Linked DNA regions of Homo sapiens: region 1 is linked to region 2. The links come from fine-mapping of genetic effects on gene expression. A gene starts in region 2. The other region holds a variant in brackets. All regions are shown on one strand. Distances are between the middles of the regions. Region 1 overlaps LAMC3 (laminin subunit gamma 3). Region 2 holds the start of AIF1L (allograft inflammatory factor 1 like).

The links. PIP is the estimated chance that this variant, and not a neighbour inherited with it, causes the effect.
Region 1: its variant is fine-mapped to the expression of AIF1L in substantia nigra (GTEx, PIP 0.93).

What each region holds. Positions count from the first base shown.
Region 1 is chr9:131,050,662-131,058,661 of GRCh38, forward strand. It overlaps LAMC3 (laminin subunit gamma 3), which reads left to right. Exons shown (of 28, transcript NM_006059.4): 10 at 1,830-2,022; 11 at 2,189-2,304; 12 at 6,268-6,486. Among named protein-coding and RNA genes, the nearest start is that of AIF1L, 42 kb to the right of the region's middle. RefSeq lists enhancers at 1,010-2,209, 7,517-8,000. The variant ACAG/A (reference allele first, on the strand shown) is at 3,181.
Region 2 is chr9:131,092,368-131,107,895 of GRCh38, forward strand. It overlaps AIF1L (allograft inflammatory factor 1 like), which reads left to right and starts at 4,164. Exons shown (of 6, transcript NM_031426.4): 1 at 4,164-4,293; 2 at 4,435-4,496. The coding sequence starts at 4,263. LAMC3 (laminin subunit gamma 3) reads left to right here. Exons shown (of 28, transcript NM_006059.4): 28 at 1-2,106. LOC124902289 (a long non-coding RNA gene) reads right to left here and starts at 1,005. Exons shown (of 3, transcript XR_007061825.1): 1 at 909-1,005. RefSeq lists enhancers at 1-564, 565-1,161, 1,959-2,460, 4,501-5,000, 9,169-9,719 and 1 more.

The DNA.
Region 1 (8,000 bases), 45 kb before region 2:
GGAGGCTGAGACAGGAGAATTGCTTGAACCTGGGAGATGGAGGTTGCAGTGAGCCAGGATTGCACCACTACACTCCAGCCTGGGCGACAGAGTGAGACTCCATCTCCAAAAAAAGGAAAAAAAAAAAAAGAGTATTTAATGGTGCAAGCTTGGGGCAGTCCCAGGAGGGGCTGGGTAGCCTGTTGGTGGACTGTGATGCGGCCGGTTGTGGAACAGTGTGTGAAACCATCTCACGTGTAGAACGTGAGTAGCAAAGGATGGGAGGGGAGCATTGCGCTCGTGCTGGTGATTGATTCTGGAGGCCGAATCGGAGTGCAGCCGGGGCATGTGGCCACCAGCTCCCGGGGCTCCCCGCTTCAGGCCGCTTCTGCACAGGTAAGAAATTCCCCCAGCCAGGAAACGCTCTGGGGCAGAGGGACACAGGGACTTTCAGTGTTTCGGGAGCTGTCCACCAAAGCTGTGGCGGGGCGCGCTACAGAATTTGAGGGATGCACTGCAGAATTAAAATCCCACCCCCCCAGTTCCCAAATAGGGGGAAGTACTATTAAAGGTACTAAAATATAAACACTTTTTTTCCCCTGCAGTTTTGCCCTTTATTTGTCATGGTGTTTTTTGGTTTGCTATTTGATGCCATTCTAGGTAAAGGAAAATTTTAAGTTATTAGCATGAAACATATAAAGTTATTAGCATGAATTTTACCATTCTTTTTTTTTTTTTTTTTGAGACGGAGTCTTGCTCTGTTGCCAAGGCTGGAGTGCATTGGCGTGGTCTTGGCTCACTGCAACCTCTGCCTTCTGGGTTCAAGCAATTCCCTGCCTCAGCCTCCTGAGTAGCTGGGATTACAGGCACCCACCACCATGCCCGGCTAATTTTTTGTATTTTTACTAGAGATGGGGTTTCACCATCTTGGCCAGGCTGGTCTTGAACTCCTGACCTTGTGATCCACTCGCCTCAGCCTCCAAAAGTGCTGGGATTACAGGCGTGAGCCACAATGCCAGGCTGCGTATTTTGTTCTTACGAGGACAGTGGAAATACTGCACACAACAAGCCCAGCCACTTTTATTTCACTCCTTGACACACGCATGTTCCACCAACATGGCACACCTCTGTGGCTTTCTCACGGGTAAGGGAAAGACCACTGGGAAAGGAGGAGGGAGGGTACTGGGAAAGGAGGAGGGAGGGTGGCCTGTGTCCTTTCCTCCTGGGTCACGAACTTCTGAAGAAATGATGGGCTGATGCAGTGAAATGACATGAGTCAGAAGGTACCGCACAGCGCTTGGTGGTTCGTGTCTCAGAAAACTAGTGCCTTCTTTCCGAGTTCAGGGCAAGTTCTGATTGGAAGGGAAAGCATGGCCCGGGGCCCAGAGCACCTCTGCTCACTCAGCCAGCTCACTTACCTTGCTGTCACCTGGAGGTCCCGCTAAACTCCTGCTGCTGGGTGTTCCCTAGGAATTTCGTGCTCATGGGCATCGTGAATGCTACACATGAGCAGACGGCAGCCTCTCTGGTCACACGTGTGTGTATCCCCTCCGTTCACCCTCGGACTCCGTGTTCCATCGGACGTCACTTCTAAAACCCAAGTTCAAAGATAAAATTATTAAGAATGTGAAGATGGTCACAGCAGAGCATGAAGCCAAGTGTGGGGGCGTGTGTGACTGCAGAGGTGTGGGTGGGCCCCCTGCAGGGTCTGCTGTGCAGGAAGCTTTTGATTTTCTACCCACTGCACTTTTATCTTTTTTGAATGTTTAGTTGCCGATAAAATCAACATAGACATTTAAAATCAAGCTAACCATATGAAGACTGTCAAAGCCTTCTTCTCTTGTCTTCAGAGAAGTTCCTGGGAGACCAGCGGTTCAGCTATGGGCAGCCCCTCATACTGACCTTCCGGGTGCCCCCCGGGGACTCCCCACTCCCTGTACAGCTGAGGCTGGAAGGGACAGGCTTGGCCCTGTCCCTGAGGCACTCTAGCCTGTCTGGCCCCCAGGATGCCGGGCATCCCAGGGAGGTAGAGCTCAGGTTCCAGTAAGTATCCCCTTCTGTCCTGAGAGATGGGGAGGTGAGAGGGGTGGTCTCTGAGGTCCGGGCACATTTCAGATGCCCCTGTAGTCTGGGGGGCTACCCCCCATCCCCAGGCATGGTACCCCCCCACCCTATGTCGGGATCTCACTTTGACCGCTTCTCTCGCCAGCCTGCAGGAGACCTCCGAGGACGTGGCCCCTCCACTGCCCCCCTTCCACTTCCAGCGGCTCCTCGCCAACCTGACCAGCCTCCGCCTCCGCGTCAGTCCCGGCCCCAGCCCTGCCGGTCAGTAAAGACAACCACATGCCCAAGACCCGAGTGCTTGCCAGGTCTCAGAACTGGGCTGGGCTCCGGCGGTCACAGTCTTGTCAGGGCCTTGCGGCCGGGTGGTTATTGTCCTGTTTTGCCAAGAAGGAACCTTAGTCAAAAGTCAGGACAGTTGCCAGAGGCCATATAACCTGTGAAGGCAATGGGGATGGTGGCTGAGGTCAGATGCAGGGAATGGACAGGAGAGAGGCCTGAAGGATGGGCCTCAGAGGCAGGTGTGCGGCCAGCAAGCCACCCAGACCCGCTGGGTGTGCTCACTCCACCTTCACTGGATCCACCAAGCCCCCTGTCCCCGCTGGACACAGCCCACAGCCGGCAGTCCAGGAGTCCCCTGGCAGAGTGACTCCCCTGCTGGTCACTGGCGGTATTGTACCTAAGCCACCCTAGGAGGGTCTGGTCTTCCCAAAGAGGGGGCCAAGCCATCACACATCATTGATGGGGGTCTGTCACCACCTCCCACCCTGGTCACAGTGATTGACAGCCTTAGCCTCTGATCTGTTCCTCATTAGAACCTCTACCCACACGCTATTTTAAAAATCAATATAGGTCGGGCGCAGAAGCTCACGCCTGTAATCCCAGCACTTTGGGAGGCCAAGGCGAGTGGATCATGAAGTCGGGAGTTTGAGACCAGCCTGGCCAAGATGGTGAAACCCCACCTCTACTAAAAATACAAAAATTAGCTGGGCGTGGTGGCACACACCTGTAATCCCAGCTACTTGGGAGGCTGAGGCAGGAGAATCGCTTGAACCCAGGAGGCGGAGGTTGTAGTGAGCCAAGATTGCGCCACTGCACTCCAGACTGGGCGACAGAGCCAGACTCCATCTCAAAACAACA[ACAG/A]CAACAATAACAAAAAACAGTCTGGTGGGGTGGTCTGCACCTGTAATTCCAGCTACTCAGGAGACTAAGACTGGAGGATCGCTTGAGCCCAGGAGGTTGAGACTGTAGTGACTGTGCCACTGCACTCCAGCCTGGGTGACAAAGCGAGACCTTGTCTCTAAAAAAAAAAAAACAAAACAAAAAACAAAACCCCTAGTGTATGTGTGTAAAATGAAGCTGAGCTCTAGGCTCAGATGTTTACAAAGGGGTTTTTCTACCCTTCCAGCACCACGCAGGACATTTGAAAGTCATGTGGGGAGTTTCTGGGAATGTCAATTTCTGGGAACTTTAGGCCTCTTCATCCACATGACAACCAACATGTCCTCAGATTTGCTTCCAGGGGAGGGAGATTTTGCTCTTTTTGAGGACCTCTGGCTCAGAGGGTCAGTCTTCCCCTGGGCCTCTTTTGAGTCCAAGGGTGCTGGGATGCCCTGGAGAAGCAGAGGACATAGCGACCCTCCCCAGCACCCGCAATCCCCAAACTTCCTCTTTCCATGGGTAATGTTTTGGGAGGCCTCTCTCTAAACCTTTCTGTGTGTACGTACTTAACATCTGTATTTTTTTAAAAACATAGAAATGTGATTACACAGCCGGGCGTGGTGGCTCACGCCTGTAATCCCAGCTCTTTGGGAGGCTGAGGCGGGCGGATCACTTGAGCTCAGGAGTTTGAGACCAGCCTGGGCAATATGGTGAAACCCCATCTCTACTAAAAATACAAAAATTAGCCGGGTATGGTGGCATGTGCCTGTAATCCCAGCTACTCGGGAGGGAGAATTGCTTGAACCTGGGAGGCGGAGGTTGCAGTTAGCCAAGATCATGCCACTGCACTCCAGCCTGGGTAGCAGAGCCAGACCTTGTCTCAAAGAAAGAAAGAAAAAGAAAGAGAGAGGGGAAGGGAGGGGGAGAAAGAGAGAGAGAGAGTGAGAGAGAGAGAAAGAAAGAAGAAGGGAGGGAGGGAGCAAGGGAGGGAAAAGAAAAGAAAGAAAGGTAATCACACAGTACGATATTCTGGGACTTGCTTTTTGTCAGCTAACAGTGCGTCGTGGAGGTTGTTCCTTGTCATTACGCGTAGAAAGCCTGGTTTTCTGTGTCTGGTGTGTAAGATTCTGTGGTATGGGTGCTCTGTGAGGTTTTAGCCATCCCCCTATTGACAGGCGCTTAAGTGGCCTCCAGTTTTCCCCATTACAACCGTGTCACAGGGAATAGGGACCAGCCTCATAGAAAGGTCTTGGTATTCCAGTATAAGTGTCGCTTTAGGACAGAGTGCTGGAAATGGAGATGTTAGGTCAAAGAGGGAGCATTTTCCATTTTGATCCACACTGCCAAATTTTCCTTCAGAAAGGCTGCTCTGATGAGGAGTGTCGGCCGCCTCCAGTCTCCCTGTTCTGTGTCTACAGATGGTCATTTTCATATTTTGCCCAGAGTTTATAGTTGTTTTCTGTGGGAAGGTTGATCTGCCAGGATCCCCTGCTCCTCTGTTACTGGAAGCAAAACCTTCTGATTAGTATTCGTACATCCACACTCTTTTTTCTTTTCTTTCTTTTTTTTTTTTTTTTTTTGAGACGGAGTCTTGCTCTGTCACCCAGGCTGGAGTGCAGTGGCATGATCTCTGCTCACTGCAAGCTCCGCCTCCCGGGTTCATGTCATCCTCCTGCCTCAGCCTCCCGAGTAGCTAGGACTACAGGCGCCCGCCACCACGCCCGGCTAATTTTTTGTATTTTTTAGTAGAGACGGGGTTTCACCGTGTTAGCCAGGATGGTCTCGATTTCCTGACCTTATGATTCGCCCGCCTCAGCCTCCCAAAGTCCTGGGATTACAGGCTCGAGCCACCGCGCCCGGCCCATTTTTTTTTCCAAATATCAGATTTCTTTATTTTTAAAATGTACACATTATAGTTGATCTAAATACAAGATGTTCACTTTCCTTGCAGGTAAGAAATGTCACTGACATTTCTGTGTCAATTAGCTTCTTTTACATCAAAATCCTGTTACATTCATTAGTCTCAAAATCTCCTATAACACTTAGAACTTTAGGCTGGGCGTGGTGGCTCAAGCCTGTAATTCCAGCACTTTGGGAGGCTGAGACAGGAGTCCTTGAGGCCAGGAGTTCAAAACCAGCCTGGACAACAAGGCGAAACCGTTTTTCTACAAAAAATTTAAAAAATTAGCTGGGTGTGGTGCCACACACCTTTGGTCTCAGCTACTTGAGCGGCTGAGGCAGGAGGATCATTTGAGGCCAGGAGTTCAAGGCTGCAGTGAGCTATGGTTGTACCACTGCACTCCAGCCTGAGTGACAGAGCAAGATTCTGTCTCTCTTAAAAACAACCAAAACAACAAGAAAAATCTTAAAACCTTAGAAATAGACCTTAAACTTTGCCTAAATGTAGCATTCAGTTATGAGTAGCCCAGGTGAGTTTCCTACACGCCATCCTCCACTAAAATTCATCTATAAAATGTTACCAGTCTGAGAGATGTGAATGGTATCATCGTTGTTTAAATCTATATATCGTTAATAACCTGTGGATGGATATCTTTCCATAAAATTCTCAGCCATATCTATTTCTTCTTGAAAATTGCCTAATCATCTCCCTTACCCTTGAATTGACAATTTGAAAAATAAAAATAAAAATCAACCAGCGCAGTGGCTCACACATGCAATCCCAGCACTTTGGGAGGCCAAGGCAGGAGGATTACTTGAGGCCAGGAGTTCAAGACCAGCCTGGGCAACATGGAGAAACCCCATCTCTACAAAAATTTTAAAAATTAGCTGGGCTTGGTGTCTTGCCTGTAGTCGCAGCTACTTGGGAGGGTGACATGGTGGGATCACTGGAGACTAGGAGTCGAGGCTACAGAGCTATGATTGCACCACTGCACTCTAGCCTGAGTGACAGAATGAGAATCTGTCTCAAAAAAAGAAAAATCATTGATTGCTAGTCTGCCTTTATATACGTGGGCCTGGTCCATATGTGAACAGGAAGGTTTTGGGGGGAAGCATGTGCAGGGAGCTTGTGCCTCCTCTCTTCCTCTCTCCCTTCTCGCTCTGCAGGTCCAGTGTTCCTGACTGAGGTCCGGCTCACATCCGCCCGGCCAGGGCTTTCCCCGCCAGCCTCCTGGGTGGAGATTTGTTCATGTCCCACTGGCTACACGGGCCAGTTCTGTGAATCCTGTGCTCCGGGATACAAGAGGGAGATGCCACAGGGGGGTCCCTATGCCAGCTGTGTCCCCTGCACCTGTAACCAGCATGGCACCTGTGACCCCAACACAGGTGAGTCTCCTGGCACCCCATCCGAAGGCACCTGGGTTATACCCAAAACAGCGGGATGAGTACTGACCTGAACAGGGCCAGCCTGGCACAGGCATTGAGGTGTTGGCCAAGCTGTGGGGCAGTGCGGGCACTGAGCTTTCCCGTGCTGCTCAGTGCCTGGGCACCTCATAGTTTAATAAAAGTTACTACTGGAATTTGTTGAAGCCTCAGGCTCTGTGCCAAGGACTTTGTATGTATCAGGTGATAACCATAAGCCAGCTGCTCTGTGGGCCATCTGTCCGCGCCACCTTCTCCCTGGGCTGGCCCTTTTCCCAGGAAGGACCAGGGAAAGACCTCAGGGGTCTTTACATGCAGAGGGTGCTGTGAGGAAGGGCAGAGGCACCAGCATGGCAGGTGACAGCAGGAGGGTTCTCAAGAAGGTCACACAGGTGACAGCAGCTCATAGGCACCAACCCAGAACCACAGACCTGCCACCCTCACCCCTTAGTGGCCATGGGAAAGTCACTTCCCTCCCTGAGCCTGCTTCCTCTTCTGTAAGGTGGAGATAATGACAGTATATACACTGCTTCTGTTTCTACACAAAGCCATATGGTGGTCAGGAGACGCTCAGGCTCTGAAAACACAGGCCTGGGTTGCATAGGAGCTCAGCCATAGCTAACTGGGAATGCCTTAGGGAAGCGCAGATAATGAAAGTCTCTACTTTTCAGGACACTTGGGAAATAATAAAATAGTGTCACCAGGTTCCTGCATGTGCTAGTCACCTTCTCTACACTATATCATTGACTCCTGCAGACATCCCTGCGGGGCCGGGACCCTTCCTGTCCCATCTCACAGGTGAAGGCCCCACGCTGCAGTGCAGATGCATGGCCAGCAGGTGGCAGAGCCGTGCCTCCCTCCAGCCTGGACTCCTGAGGCCTGGTTGCTGCTGGCTACTCATTCTCACTTCTTTTTATTTTATTTTATGTTTTATTTTTTATTTTTTGTGGGGGGTGACAGAGTCTCGCTCTGTTGCCTATGCTGGAGTGCAGTGGTGCAGTCTTGGCTCACTGCAGCCTCCTGCTGGGTTCAAGAGATCCTCCCACCTCAGCCTCCTGTGTAGCTGGGATTACAGACGCCTGTCACCATCCTCGGCTAATTTTTATATTTTCAGTAGAGATGGCGTTTTACCATGTTGAGGCTGGTCTCAAACCTCTAACTTCAAGTGATCCTCCTGCTTCAGCCTCCCGAAGTGCTGGGATTACAGGCGTGAGCCACCACGCCTGGCCAACTGATCCCCACTTTTATAGGAGCAGACCTGGCCTTGCTCAAGGTCACATGGCCAGGAGGCACCTGAGAAGGCTGGACTCAGACCTCTTCCACTCCCACACTGACGGCTTCATGCCTAGACACCTGCTGCCTCCCCAGAGCAGGTGGGGGCTGTCTGAGAAGAAGGCTGCTGGGCATTTTTCTTCCTGAAAAGACGGTAGCCAGGCGTGGTGGCTCACACCTGTAATCCCAGCACTTTGGGAGGCTGA
Region 2 (15,528 bases):
GCGTGCACTCCCTACAGCTCGACACAGCCAGGGGACCAACAGGCCAAGAAATGCAAGATCCCGGGAGGGTTCTTAGCAGCAGAATCTGAGGCCCAGAGACCCTGAGGCCGTGGCCAGGCCTGCTAGTCTGGCTAGAGCAAGGCCCATTCCTGGCGGGGGTGTCATTGCCTTCACCGGACGCTTCCCTCTCAGGGTCCTGGGACTGCACCAGATGCCCTGAGGGAATGGCCCACCCTGGCCTGTACCCACTTCAGCCTGTGATCTATCCAAAGAGCCAGGCCCAAAAGCGCCTAGGTCAGGGTGCTCAGGCTACCAGGAGCACGCCTCTGTGCCCCCGGCAACCCAGTTGACCTTTAATTGACGCTTTCCAGACCAGCCCTGCGGCACCACTTGCCATGCGGGAGGCCACCAGGGTGTGCAAGCCTGGCTGCCATTCCAGTCTGTCCTGTCTGGGAATCGCCCTGTGGCCAGGCCCGCATGCTGGCCTCTGCCCAGGACTCCTCAGCATTTCCTCTTGGCATCCCTCCCCTCTCCCAGACCCTCTTCCAGCAGATGGCAAGGCCTCGGCATTGGGAAGTCAGGCACCTCTGCGGGCCCAGCCCCCTCCCGTGGCTCCCCTGACAGGGGCAGGGGTAGGGCAGCAGCACAGACCAATTCCGTTGAACGTGGAAATAAAGGACCCTTTCACTGGGCAGGGTGGTGTGCCTCACCCTCCCCGGCTGGTGGGCAGCCAGGGCCCTGGCTGTGGGTGTGCATATGACACACCTAGTAGGTGGCCAGCATGTGGACCGGACGTTGGTAGGAAGGTGGCAAAAGCCGAGCTCGTGGCTGGGCCAGTACCTCCCATTAGAGGGCTTTGCTGGGGTTGTGTGATCACAGGTACCTACCCTGTCCTCTCAGGCACTTACCACGTAAAGCCTAGGAGCTGGTGAGTTGGAGGGGTGGGGTGCGGAGAGGCCCTCAGCTGACCTCTGGTTCAGGCTCGAGACGAACTCACAGCCAAGTGTCCGAGGATGGTGAGGAGCAGGGAGGGGCGCCATCCAGGAGGGGGATGGTGTGGGTGGGGCCTTGAAGGGTGGGGAGGCAGAGAAGGAAGCATTCCAGGCAAGAGGGTGGACAACAGTCCGGGGCCCGCAGGGTTGGGGCTCGGCCAGCTTGCATCACTCCAGGACCCCAGGTTGAATGGGGTGGGATGTTGGAGCTGCTCAGTCAGGGCTCTTGGCCGCAGGCCTCAAACCCCTCCTGAGGTGGTTTCAGCAGAAAAGGGGTGTTGGGAGGGTCGCTTGGAACCCTGGAGTAAAAACGGCTGCCACGTGTTGGAGATAGCCTAGGGAGGGGAGCCTGAGGCTTCCGGGATAGGTTGGCTTCCCTCTTCCCCCCTCCCGCCTCTCTTCTTGGTCTGTGTCTCTGCTCTCCTCTCCTGTATCTGCTTCGTTCTTTTCTCTTTATTTATTGATTTTTTTTGAGATGGAGTCTCGCTCTGTTGCCCAGGCTGGAGTGCAGTGGCATGATCTCTGCCCACTGCATCCTCCACCTCCCAGGTTTAAGCAATTCTCCTGCCTCAGCCTCCCGAGTAGCTAGGACTACAGGTGCTTGCCACCATGCCCAGCTAATTTTGGTATTTTTAGTAGAGACAGGGTTTCACCACGTTGGTCAGGCTGGTCTCAAACTCCTGACCTCAGATGATATACCTGCATTGGCCTCTTAAAGTTCTGGGATTTCAGGCATGAGCCACTGCAACCGGCCCATTCTTTTCTCTTTGCAGAGTGGCTTTCTTTGTTTTTCTTGTGCCTGATAGGAGAGGACACCCACCCCTACCGCCATCCCCCATAATGGCCCCAGGTGTACATGTCATCAGGTCCAGTGCTTGCAAGAGACAAGCTGGTGACTCTGTCCTGATTCCAGCTTCTCAGCTTAGGTGAAGTCCCACCAACCCCCGTTCAGGATAATGAGGATCTCTGGATCTAAGGCCAATAATGGATGACCGGTGCCACCCCCCAACCTAATGGGAGATGGTGTTCAGAGAAGAGGTGTGCTCCTCCACAGAAAACTGTAAAATCAAGGCTACGGTGGGGGATTGACATGATTAAACTGAGCTAGGAGTGACTTGGTCCCTAGATGTCTGGGCAGAGGTGGAGAGGCCGAAGATGGGGGAGCTGCTGCTGCACAGTGAGTTTGGTGATTGGCGTCTGGTGTAAGTGATGTCGAGAATATGGAGTTCTTCCAAGACCTCTGGGATAGGGTCTGATGTCCCCCTCCCGCCTCCCTCCAGTTTCTCAGCCGATGGCACACAGTCGTCCTGGTGCCTGCTCTTGGCACTCAGCCTTTATCCACTCAAGCCGTGGGATCCAGCTCAGCTCAGTCCCAGCATCCCCGACGGGTGGAGAACTCGGGCCTGACATGTTGTGACTCACGCAGTCTGATCATGCCTGGTGCATGTGCTGATCTATTCTCTGGCCCCAGAGGTGGGGCCGCTGCCGGGTGGAATGCGGCAGCTGTTGAACATCTGGCTAGCAATGCAGTCCAGCAGCTGAGCAGAAGGTGGGGTGGCCCCTGCCCTGTAGGATGGCTGACTGGAGCCAACCAGCCCAACCGGCCAGGGCAATAGGCTGTTGGAGCCTGGAGAGGGAAGTGCATTATGAGGGCTCTGTCCTAAGTCAGCTCCCATCCACCAAGGGTGGTAACGCTAAGCTTTTACTCTCTGCTTAAACCATCCAGCAAGTCATCAAAGTTACAAAAGCCCCTGCTTAGTGCGTTCTGGGTTACTTCATTGTGAAGATCAGGGGACTGAAGCTCAGCCAGATCAAGTGCCTCGCCTAAGGTCATGCAGCTTGGCCAAATCCAAACCCTTGGGTGAGTGGACAGAGGAGCGTCAGCTAGGAGAGGTGGGCGCTGGTCTTACTGGGGAGGAGGGGCCTGCCCCCTGGACTGCTGCCCTGACCTCAGCCCCATCCCATTCTGCCTAGCCCCTTGCTGGGCACTTCCCTCCCCAGGGACAGCCACAGAAAAATGATGATCTCGGCTGGGCGTGGTGGCTCACGCCTGTAATCCCAGCACTTTGGGAGGCCGAGGCAGGTGGATCACCTTAGGTCAGGAGTTCGAGACAAACCTTGCCAACATGATGAAACCCCGTCTCTACTAAAAATACAAACATTAGCTGGGCGTGGTGGTGTGTGCCTGTAGTCCCGGCTACTTGGGAGGCTGAGGCAGGAGAATCACTTGAACCCGGAGGCGAAGGTTGCAGTGAGCCGAGATCAAGCCGCTGCACTCCAGCTCTGGGCAACAGAGCAAGACTCTGCCTCGAAAAAAATAAATAAATAAGAAAGATGATCTCAGGGTCCCTACCCTAGGAGTCAGATGCACGGTGGGGCCATTCCTAGCGCTGCCTGCCCTGGACAGCGCCTGTCTATGCCTGTGGCCCAGCATCATTATGAGGAGTGCTCCCTTGACTCTGGCTGTCCTGATTTGGACACTAGACTTCATGGTCACCCTGGCCACAGGTACCCTATCCTGCATCCTGAGCTCCGCTCTTCCTGGAGTCATGGGCTGGTCTTTCCTCCTGGTGGCCTTGCGCCCCAGCTCCAGCTTCCTGACTTTTCTCTTCTGGAAATGGGAATGCCAAGTCCTATTTCATGGAGTTTTGAGAATGAAATGACTGGTGTACGGTGCAAAGTGCCTGTGAGTGCCCAAGAAATCTCTTTTATTAACAAGACACGAATTCATTCCAATTGATTTGACGGGCCACTGTTGTCACAGCAGCCGCACTGCCCCAAAGGCAGCAGTGATGTTTGAGCGCCGACTCCCCGACGGCACTTGGTCCTCACAACCACCCCATGGAGTTCATGCTAAGATCCTCGCATTTCATTTGTGTGGCAGGGACTTGCTGAGGTCCGGGGAGGGGCAGAGAGGAGGGGTGCGGCCGCCCCGCGCTTTGCACTTTCCGCGTCCTCCAGCAGAGGGGTCGGCCGGCGGGCTCAGCGTCCCGCATAATAGCCGCTTTGAAGCCCGCGGAGCGGGTGGCGGGAGGGGAGGGGAGAGGCGGGAGGGGAGGGGAGAGGCGGGAGGGGAGGGGCGAGGCGGGAGGGAGGGAGGGAGGGGCCGGCAGCGGAGGGAGGGGTGTGTCGGCCGCCCGCGCCGTTCCTCCGCCCCTCGGTCCCGCGGCCACACGCAGCTAGCCGGAGCCCGGACCAGGCGCCTGTGCCTCCTCCTCGTCCCTCGCCGCGTCCGCGAAGCCTGGAGCCGGCGGGAGCCCCGCGCTCGCCATGTCGGGCGAGCTCAGCAACAGGTTCCAAGGTAGGCGCCGCCGTCCCCGAGCAGCCACCTGTGCGCGCCGGGCGGACCGCGGGGTCCACCGCGCGCGGGAAGCGGGCGGGGACGGGGGCGCGTGGCCCGAAGAGGACCCCGCTTCCCAGGCCGCCTCTTTGTCTCCTCCAGGAGGGAAGGCGTTCGGCTTGCTCAAAGCCCGGCAGGAGAGGAGGCTGGCCGAGATCAACCGGGTAAGCCCCGCGCCCAGGGCAGCACGCGAGTCCCGAGCCGCGCGCTGCGCGGGTGCCACCTCTCCTTCCGCGAGGCCGTGCCCGCCTCCAGATCTACCCTCTTCCTTCCCTTCCCCTGGGCTTCCCTCAGGTGCCTCCCTCCGCCCCCAGCCCCGTCGCCTCCGACTCCAGGTAGGTCCGCCTCCGCCTCCCGCCTCCGGTCTCGGGTTGCAAGTTGTTACTCTTGCAACTGGGGACTGGGGAGGTGGGGCCGGGTCAGGAGCTCGGATGCCAGCCGGCTCGTGGCTCCCCGCAAGCCCGCTTGGGAGCAGCCCAAGGATTTGGCGCGGGAAGGGCCCTAGGCCAGTGATCTCTCCAGCTCAGAACACAGGCTCCGGGTCATTTGCTGGTCTGTCGCCCAGGCTGGAGTTCGGTGGCCCAATCTCAGCTCATTGCAGCCTCCACCTTTGGGATTCAAACGGTCCTCCCTCCTCATCCTCCCGAGTAGCTGGGACTACAGGCATGTGCCCCCACGCCTGGCCTTAGCTATTGTTGTTATAAGGGATTCAAAAGTACAAATAGAAGACTCTGATGGGCGTAGAGATCCTGGCACTTCCCCGTGGTCTCCAGCCTCCCGCCTCCCTCAAACACACCACTCCTCTTCACTCCAACTTTCAGGAAAGATTGCCTTAAGGGATTCAATGCTTTTCTTGCTGGTCCTGGTGGATTTCTCAAAAGAAATCTTTCCTGTTGTTGCCAGGCATCCAGTGAGAGCTCCATAAATTTACATAGATTCTAGAAGATAAGGAAAGATATCAGGACCTGTCTGGGTTGGCCAAAGCTCAAAGGCAGCACAGCCAGTGGCTTTAAAGTTCTGCAAGACCTGGGCTCAGATCTGGCCTCCACTGTGTGCCAGCTCTGTGGTCCTCAGCAAAGGGCCTCTCATCTCCAAGCAGGGCATTGTGCAGGCTCAGAGAGGGAAGGCCCGTGGCCTGCATGGCCCAGCACCCAGCATTCAGGAAGCACTCACAGAACTAGCATTATTTCCTGAGGTGGATGTCTCCCAGTTTCCTTCTTAACTGGTGGCAGAGGCACGCCCGCTGAAACAAGGCTTGGCATTCCCCCTGCAGGCTCCTCTGGTCCCCTGGACACCCAGGGTCTAAGCCCAGCTGACAGTCTGGAAGTGGGCCGCTGGTGAGGTCAGCAGAGCCCGAGAAGGCTGTGGGAGGCGGGTCCGAGCCTGGGGCCAGGTTGTGGTATTGCCTCTTGCCAGCAGTGTGCAGCCTTGATTCCCCCTTGGTTTTCTTGGACTGCTTGGATGTAGGCAGCCTGTCTGTTTTCCATCCGCTGGCTACAGGACTCCCATTCGGTCCCCAGCTACAGGGCTCTGGGGACCTCAGGGTTCCCCCTCCAGGTAAGCTCCGGCCTCCTCACCGCCACCCTCACCCTGCTTCCTGGGGGCATCTTGAGCACAACTGGAAGGTTGCCCGGACATCTGGCTGGGGTGCTCAGGGGTCTCGGATCCCTGCTGGGCTCCTTCCCAGATCACTGTGTGCCTGCCCAGCCTGGGGCTTGGCTGCTCTAGCCCTCTGGACAGAAGGCTGGAACCCCGACCTCATATAGCCCCCTGGGTCACTTGGCCAGGCGGGTTCTGAGCTGGCTGGAGCCACCCACAGCCAGCGGGACCCTGAGCCACAGACAGCTGGAGATGGGGGTGAGGTGACCATGGTTGGACAAGCCAGAAGAGCTAAGAGGGCGGGGCCAACCTAGCCCTTGGGGAGGTGGGTTGGGGGAGGGGGCGGCTCCAGGGTTGTTTTGGGAAACCGACTAGCTTGGCTTAGAAAGAGGAGGGACTTTAACAGCTGTCAGGGGCTGATCTGGGCAGCACTGGGACTAGGGAAAGTGAGCAGGAAGGAGCTGTGGTCTAACCACCTCAGGACAGCGCCCAGAGAGGGCAAGCAGCTGACCCAAGGCCACGCAGAAGCCAGTGACAGAGCTTGCAGCCCAGCGTCCTTCCCCTGCCAAGACGCTGTACTGAGACCCACCATGACAGCCCAGCCGCTGTAGGGCTGCTGAGGCCCAGGATCTGGGGCCCTGTAGGAAGGAGGCGCCAGGATCACACGGGAAGCTTGAGCTGCTTCACCACAGTGGAGCAGGGTGGCCCCACCAGTTTAGTCATGAGGTACCCACAAGCACTGATCTGTGACTCTGGGCAAGCCACTCACCTCTCTGAGCCTCCTTCTCCAAAAAGATAATGGTTGTGATTTTTTCAGTGAGACAATCTATGTAAAGCACCCAGGAGAGCTGGCTGCGGCCCTGATAGCTATCAGGACAGTTTCTTTGTTCGTGGCCTCAAGGTGCAGGGAGTGGAAGATACTCCGCCCTGGCTCATGCTGGTTGCTCAGCCCAGCAGAACCTCGTCTTCCCCAGCCTGAAATGGGAGCAGGGATCTCTGCCCCTCTGGAGTCCCTGCAACAATTAACCGATGGAAGTGGATGGAAGCTCTTTGCAGACTGTGGGGGAGTCACTCTGTGTGAGAGTCTGAATTGGTTCACCCACGGCCATGGGGGCAGTGCAGAGGGCCTGAGCTAGGTGGATTGTAGGCAGAATTGTGCTGGCAGCCCGGACTGCCTTCCTTTGGGGTGCAGCTTCACTGCCCCACTGGAGTGTGGATTCTGGGGGCCTGGGCTAAGCCCAGGATTCACTGCCAAAGCCCTGCTTCTGTGCCAGGCAGCTTGGGCACCGCCATGGCTGCTGCCTGGGGCACAGCCCAGCTTGGCTGGCAGATCTAGGGGCTTCTCTGGGCCGATACCTAGTTCCCTTTGGGGCCTTTCTCCTCCCTTGGTGTAGGCCAGCTTCCAGAGGGGCAGGGTAGCTCAGCCTTAGCTTTTTTTTTTTTTTTTTTTTAGACAGAGTCTCTGTCACCCAGGCTGGAGTGCAGTGGCGTGATCTCAGTTCACTGCAACCTCCGCCTCTCGGGTTCAAGCGATTCTCCTGCCTCAGCCTCCCGAGTAACTGGGACTACAGGCGCTTGCCACCACGCCCAGCTAATCTTTGTGTTTTTAGTAGAGACAGGGTTTCACCGTGTTGGTCAGGCTGGTCTCGAACTCCTGACCTCAGGTGATCTGCCCGCCTCAGCCTTCCAAAGTGCTAGGATTACAGGCGTGAGCCACCCCACCCCGCCCAAATTTAGCTTTTTGTTGTTGCTGTTGTTAACAGAGACAGGGTCTCACTCTGTTGCCCAGGCTGGGGTGCAGTGGCCCAATCTCAGCTCATTGCAGCCTCTACCTCCCCAGCTCAAGCAATCTTCCATCTCATCCTCTCAAGTAGCTGGGACTACAGGCATGTGCCCCCATACCCTGCCTTAGCTATTGTTATTATAAGGGATTCAAGAGTAAAAATAGGAGACTCTAATGGGCCTAGAAATCCCAGTAGAGGAAGGGAGGTGGGGGAGCCGCATGAAAATGCACCTCTTTTTGGTTTCACTTTAGTTTTTGCTGTAGTTTTCTGAACACTTGGTATGTGCCCGTCCTGTGCCAGGTGCACTGTGGGCATTATCTTGCGAATGCTCTCTCTAACCCAGGGAGTATTGTTGCTCCCATTTTTGAGAAAACGAGACTCAGAGAGGCTGGGTAAACTGCCTGGGTTTAAACAGCCTCGACTTGAACCCAGCCTATTTTCTCAATCGCTCAGCTTGGCTGGGCCTCCTGCTGCGTGTCCACCCCCAGCTCCATTTGCTGTGTGTTTGTATGTGCACGCACGTGTGTACATAGCAGCACTACTGGAGTGGGCAGAACTGGCCAGCACCTCCTACTCCCCCTACATAGCTGGCATTCCCCGAGCCCTGATGGCATGGTTGGTGACCCCAGGCCAGCCAGGCATGGCCTTATATGGCAATGGGAGAGATTTTCTCCAGCTTCCCACAGGGACAGAGAGAAGCAGGAGTGGGGCTGGGGGCGCTGCCCCTCAGGGTGGCTGTGCCCTGGGACTTAGCAGGAGGCGCTCAGGGGACAGTGAGGGCTGCCACATGAGCTGGCTAGCAAGTGAGGTCTTTTTTCTTTCTTTCTTTTTTTGAGACGGCGTCTCGCTCTGTCACCCAGGGTGGAGTGCAGTGGCGTGATCTCGGCTCACTGCAACCTCCACCCCCTAAGTTTACGCGATTCTTCTGCCTCAGCCTCCCAAGTAGCTGGAACTATAGGCGCGCACCACCACGCCCGGCTAATTTTTGTATTTTTAGTAGAGACGGGGTTTCACCATATTGGTCAGGCTGGTCTCAAACCCCTGACCTCGTGATCCGCCCCCCTCGGCCTCCCAAAGTGCTGGGATTACAGGTGTGAACCACCACACCCGGCCAACAGGTGAGATCTTCAACACAGTAACGAGCTGTGGCTGTGCTCCATGCCCACAGATTGACATTCATCATCTCGCTGACCCCGCAACAGGGCACCCCAGCAGACAGATGCACAGTGAGAATCTGCAGACAGCCCCATGGGATAAGGATTATCATGACTCCTTTTTTTTTGAGACAGGGTCTCACTGGGTTGCCCAGGCTGAAGTGCAGTGGTGTGATCTCGGCTCACTGCAGTCTTGACCTCCTGGGCTTAGGTGATCCTTGCACTTCAGCCTCCTGAGTAGCTGGGACTATAGGCGTGCACCACCACGCCAAGCTAATTTTTTTTTTTTGTGGAGACAAGGTTTCACCATGTTGCCCAGGCTGGTCTCGAACTCCTAAGCTTAAGCAATCTGCCCACCTTGGCCTCCCAGAGTGCTGAGATTACAGGCATACATCACTGTGCCGGGCCTTGACTTCCATTTTAGAGATGAGGAAACAGGCTTAGCTAGATGAAGTCACCTGCAAGGTCACCCAGCCAGGAAGTGGCAGATCTGGGATTCAAACCCAGTCACCCTGGCCCCTGTCACCAGGTGGCTGCAGCCTAGCTATGACACAGGCCTCTCTTGCTTATATCGATAAGGATCTCTGGCTACTGTCCCAATGGTCCAGCCCTCCTGGGTCGAATGAAGGGCACTCAGCATTCCCTGTCACATTTAGGTACCTGATGGTTTTTTGTTTTGTTTCGCTGTTTTTCATTTTGAGACAGAGTCTCACTCTGTCACCCAGGCTGGAGTGCAGTGGCATGATCTCGGCTCACTGCAACCTCTGCCACCCAAGTTCAAGCGATTCCCCTGCCACAGCCTCCCGAGTAGCTGGGATTACAAGTGCCCACCACCACGGCTAATTTTTGTATTTTTAGTAGAGACAGGGTTTCACCATGTTGGCCAGGCTGGTCTCGAACTCCTGACCTCAAGTGATCCACCCGCCTTGGCCTCCCAAAGTGCTGGGATTGCAGGTATGAGCCACTGCACCTGGCCCCTGATGTTTTTTTCAGAAGCCACATGTCATCTGCACTGGGAAGGCAGCTGGGCAGGGTAGGCTGGGTATCTCTGCCCAGGGGTGTATATATCCCCTGCCCTTCCCCCAGCAATGGGGGGCCTCTGAGACCTGACCCAGGCAAGTATGCAGGTGTGTCTTTTTTCCTATGTACCTGGCAGTGCCACTCTGTCCCTGCCCAGGCGAATGTATGCAGCTGGCATTGCTGGGCACCCACCTCTCTTGCTCTTCCTTAATATATTATAAGGGAGATGGTGATAAGTGGCCACGTGAGCCTCTGAGGATTCAGTGTCCCCTGCAGGTCCAACCAGTTATGACCTTGGTGTGGCCGTGTCACAGGAAGCTGGAGATGGAATTTCTGCAGGGTGTGCTTTATTGCATAGCTGCTTGGGAGTTTTTCTTTAGCTGCCCCATCTGTTGGCGAGGATGCGGCATCTGAATGAGGCCCAGGGCTGCAGTGGGGAATGTGAACCCGCTGTCCTTGTGGGTGCACATTACAGGCTTCTGCTACTCACCAGGTGCCAGCACCACTTGTGGCCTGGCCCTGGCCCTTTAAGAGCCTGTGGGCTGCGTCAGAGGTCCTACGCCCCGGCATGGTGCTTCCTGTCCTTGGAGTTCTTGTCCAAGGCCTGAGCCACCAGCCCCTTGGATGGCCTCCAAGATGGTGATATCCGCCCACCCCAAAATTCTGCTGCAGCTGATACAGAAAGACAAGCCTGGAGGGCCAGGAGCAAGGGTTCGCCAGAAGGTGCTAGAGGTACCAGCCCAGAAAGAGAGTTAAGTCAGCGAGGAGCAGGCAGGTGGGAGGGCTTCTGAGGACAGGCACGGCAGGGGCTGCCAGCTTCTGATGGGTTTGGAAACAGCCCCTCCTGGGCATAGCACTTGGGGGCCTCGCTGGAGGCTGGGATGGGCTTGGGGGACTCTGGCGAGCATCAGAGGCTGTAGGTGACCAGGAAAGGCGGCAGTGAACAGATGCTATTGGGGACTGAGATGGGAGGGTTCAGGCAGGTTGGATGGCCCATCACTGCCAGGTCAGCCGGGGGCTGAGGACAAAGCAAAACTTGCCCTTGAGGGATGGCCAGTGGGCCAAGACTTGCCAGGAGGACTTCAGGGCATCACGGAGGAGCACAGCATGGTCGGTGGGTGATGTTCTTTCCCTGCCCTTCCCCCGCACACACACCTGCCTCTCGATGTGGCTTGAGTTTGGATGATCCTAAGACATAATAATAATTTTGAACACTTAGCAAGTGTACTAGGAGCCAGGCTCCTTCTGTGCAATTAGCTCGTTTAATCCTTACCGCAGGCCAGGCACTAAGGCAGGAGGATAGCTTGAGTCTGTGAGGTTGAGGCTGCAGTGATCCTGCAGATCGTGCCACTGCACTTTAGGCTTGGGAATGGAGCAAGACCCTGACTCAAAACAAAACAAACAAACAAAAAAATTCCTTACAGCAACTCAGTGAGGAGGTTCTGCATATCATTATGATCCCATTTGATAGATAAGCCCACTTTATAGATGAAGAGACTGAGGCCTAGAGTGGTAAACAGGTAAAGTTGCCCTGCCCAGAGCCACAGAGCTAGTATGTGCTAAAGCTGGAATGGCAACCCTGGCAAGTTATCCCCTATGTCCTACACACCCTGGGCTCAGAGAGATGATGTGACGTTTTCAACTGTTGTGAACTTGGGCAAGGCCTGTCCCTTCCGGCACCTCGGTTTCCCCAGCTATTGAACAAGGAGGGCAAGCTGAACGCTGTGAGGAGTCCCTTCTGGTTCTGTGGCTGGGTGGATAATTTAACAGCTCTGCCACCTCCCAGGCCCCAGCCTTGGATGCTCTGGTCCCCGGGGACTGAAAAGTGGGCTCAGCTGCCTGTGTGTCACCCCCCAGCTCCTGCCCGCTTGCATTTCCTGGCCCTTTGCTAGGGACTGATCAGGCCACTGTGGCCTCCAGGCCTGCCCCTCTGCATGTCAATAGCCACTTTCAGGGCCCAGAGGCCCCCTGCACTTCTCACACCTGCTCCCCCACCCCAGCACTTTCTACTTTCTGCAGCCGGGAAAACTTGTCTTTGGGGACAGTGGGTTAGATTGTGTGAGGAGGATAGGGGATAGAATAAACCACCTACCCCCACATCTCCCTGGAGGGCTATAAAGTGGTTCCCTGGCCTCTGGAATAACCTCCTGCAGCTGCCGAAGAGGAAAGGTAACTCCCAGTATTGACTTTCTTTGCCCAGAAACCTGCAGCCAGGCTACCTTCTTGTTTGGGGCAGGCATAGACCTTGAATTGCTAAAACTTGGCAATCCTGAGCAAGTTGAGCAACCTCTCTGGGCCTCAGTTGTCCCATCTGTCAAATGGGGATACCTGGAAAGAGGAGAGAGAAATCATAACTGGCCTACTCCACGGGGAGGGGGCCTCCTTCCTAATCTGCTGAATAGTCTGTGAGGGTCTATGGAGGTTATAAGCTGATTGTATGGGCATAAGTATTAGAAAAAAATAATAAACAGCTAACATTTATTTAGTATTTGCTGGCCGGGTGCGGTGGCTCATACTTGTAATCCCAGCACTTTGGGATGCTGAGATGGGCGGACTGCTTGGGCCCAGGAGGTTGAGGTTGCAGTGGGCTATGATTGTGCCACTGCACTCCAGCCTGGGCAACAGAGCGAGACTCTGTCTCAAAAAAAAAAAAAAAATTCATGCAGCCATGAAGTGGATTCAAACTCAGGCATTCTGGCTCCAGTCTGCCTTTTTTTTTTCTTTATTTTGCTTTTCTTCCAAACACCTGGGGTGGCTTCTATCTCTGTCTCCTCTGCCTATGGACCCAGGGTCAGGGCAGCCAGGGGTCCTGGAAAGACAGGGTACCTGTGCCTTTGGCAGGGACGGGGGGAGGATGCCTGCAGGGAGGGAGCTGTGGGTGGTACATGAGCAGGAACCAAGAATCCAAAGCTCAGAGGTGGAGCAGGCGTGGCAGCCTGGCTGGTGGAGTCCTGTTCCTGCCACTGCCCGCCGGGCTCCCCCATCCCCTACCCAGGCATGGTCAGCACAGCTGCCCTAATCCCAGAGCCAGTGAGGGCTGCCCACACATGAGGAGCTCAGCTGCCTCTCCCACCCTGGTCACTTGTGGCCCAAGCATTTGTCATGTTTTGTTTTGTTTTGTTTTTTAAGACAAAGTCTCACTGTGTGGCCCAGGCTGGAGTGCAGTGGCGCGATCTCAGCTCACTGCAACCTGCACATTCCGGGTTCAGACAATTCTCCTGCCTCAGCCTCCCAAGTATAGCTGGGATTACAGGTACGTGTGGTTTTTAGTAGAGACAGGATTTCACCATGTTGGCCAGGCTGGTCTTGAACTCCTGACCTCAGGTGATCCGCCTGCCTTGGCCTCTCAAAGTGCTGGGATTACAGGCGTGAACCACCACACTGGGCTGCATTTGTCATTTTTGGCTCTAAGGAAAAATAGGATTCCAAACCCTAAGCCCCTCCAGCCTCTGTCATGCGTGGGCACACACTTTTGCAAAGCTGCCTGATCGTTGCAGGGGTGAGGATGGAGAAAATAATGGACCGAATGGCAGGCCTGTCCATTCATTCAATGGATGTTTTGTTGTTGTTGTTGTTGCTTTTTTTTTTTTTTTAGAGACAGGGTCTGGCTGGAGTGCAGTGGTGCAGTCAAAGCTCATTGCAGCCTTCACCTCCTGGATTCAAGTGATCCTCCAGCCTCAGCCTCCCAAGTAGCTGGGACTACAGGCACGCACCACCACACCCAGCTAATTTTTTAATTTTTTGTAGAGATGGGATCTCCCTATGTTGCTCAGGCTGACTTCAAACTTCTGGCCTCAAGTGATCCTCCCTCCTCGGGCTCCTCAACAGATGTTTATTGAGTGTCTACGATATGCTGGGCACTTCGACGCTAAACCTGTGGCTGGGGCCCTGCCTCCTCCGAGCTGCCTCCTGATACCCACTTCCTCCTCAGTACTGTGCAGGGAGGGAGCCGCAGCTACAGAGGATTTCATGTTCCCAGCACAGCTGCTTGCTGGCTCTGCTGTTTCAGGCAAGTTAGTTAACCTGAGTCTCAACTCCTCCACTCATCCTGCACATGTTTATTGAGCGTCTGCTATGTGGAACCTACATTCTAGCCGGGGAGGCAGAGAGGGTGTAGTAACCTCAGTAAGCAGTGGCAGTGGAAATCATGTTTGGAGGTGACCCATCCTAAGGAGCTGGATAAGGGCGATTGGAAGTCGGGGCAGCTGAAGTGGGCAGGCAGCAGTATAAAACAGGGTGGACAGGGCTGGGCATGGTGGCTCACACCTATAATCCTAGCACTTTGGGAGGCCGAGGCAGGCAGATCACTTGAGCCCAGGAGTTTAAGACCAGCCTGGGCAACAGAGGGAGACCCCATCTCTACAAAAAATACAAACATTAGCTGGGTGTGGTGGCATACACCCGTAGTTCTAGCTGCTCTGGAGGGCTGAGGTGGGAGGATTGTTTGAGCCCAGGCAGGTCGAGGCTGCAGTGAGCTGTGATCGTGCCAACAAAGAATAAATAGGGTCGGCCGCATTGAGAAGGTGACATTCGGCCGCATTGAGAAGGTGACATTGAGGCTGGGTGTGGTGGCTCACGCCTGTGATGCCAGGAATTTGGGAGGCCGAGGCAGTCGGATCACCTGAGGTCAGGAATTTGAGACCGAACTGCTCCATATGGTGAAACCGCATCTCTACTAAAACAAAAATTAGCTGGACGTGTTGGTGCGCACCTGTAGTCCCAGCTACTGGGGAGGCTGAGGCAGGAGAATTGCTTGAACTCGGGAGGGGGAAGTTGCAGTGAGCTGAGATCGCGCCACTGCACTCCAGCCTGGCGACAGAGTGAGACTCCGTCCCAAAAAACAAAAATAAAACAAAACAAAAAAGACAAGGTGACATTGAGCAAAGGCTTGAAGTTGGTGAGGGAGAGAACCACGCAGATCTGTGGACTCCAGGCAGGGTGCACAGCTAGTGCAGGGTGCAGCCCAGGGCAATCTTCCCAACCACTGCTGCCGTTCATGCTGTGCACGTGGCCTTGCTCTTCATCCCTGCCTGGTTGGTCTGTGTCTGTCTGTGTGCAATTTGTCTCTAAGGCCAGGGACCATGTCCTTCCACTTGCACCCATCCACCTACAGAGTGGCCCAAGTAAAACTGGATCTCTAGGGCTGGTCGGTCCAGGCTGAGGCAGGATTTCTGGTCAACCAGACCCCAGGGGCTGGGACAGCCCCTCCAAATCTCTCCCCAGAGGTTCCCAGATGTTGGTGCTCTTGTGCCTCCCCAGGAAGGTTCTCTAGTTCTTGGTAAAGTGAAGGAAATGCAGGGTCACTGTGGTGAGTTGGACCTAGGCTGAATGGATTCCATTTAAACATTCAGAGATGGTGAACTTCCTACTTTTATGAAATGTTCTTTTCTGAACTCATGGCAACAGTCAATGGCCATTGTTTAAAAAGTCTTTACTTGGCAAAATAAAAAGTTGGCACTCGTATATTAGTGCGCCCCTCTGCCCCGCCTTTAAAAATGTTTCATGTCTGCGTGACCCCAAAGTCTGGGAATCACTGATCTAATATGTCCCTTCACTGGGCAGATATGGGATCTGGGACCCTGGGAGGTGCCTGGTTTGCTCACAGTCACAGACAAAAGTTAATTGTCCTCCTTTTGGGC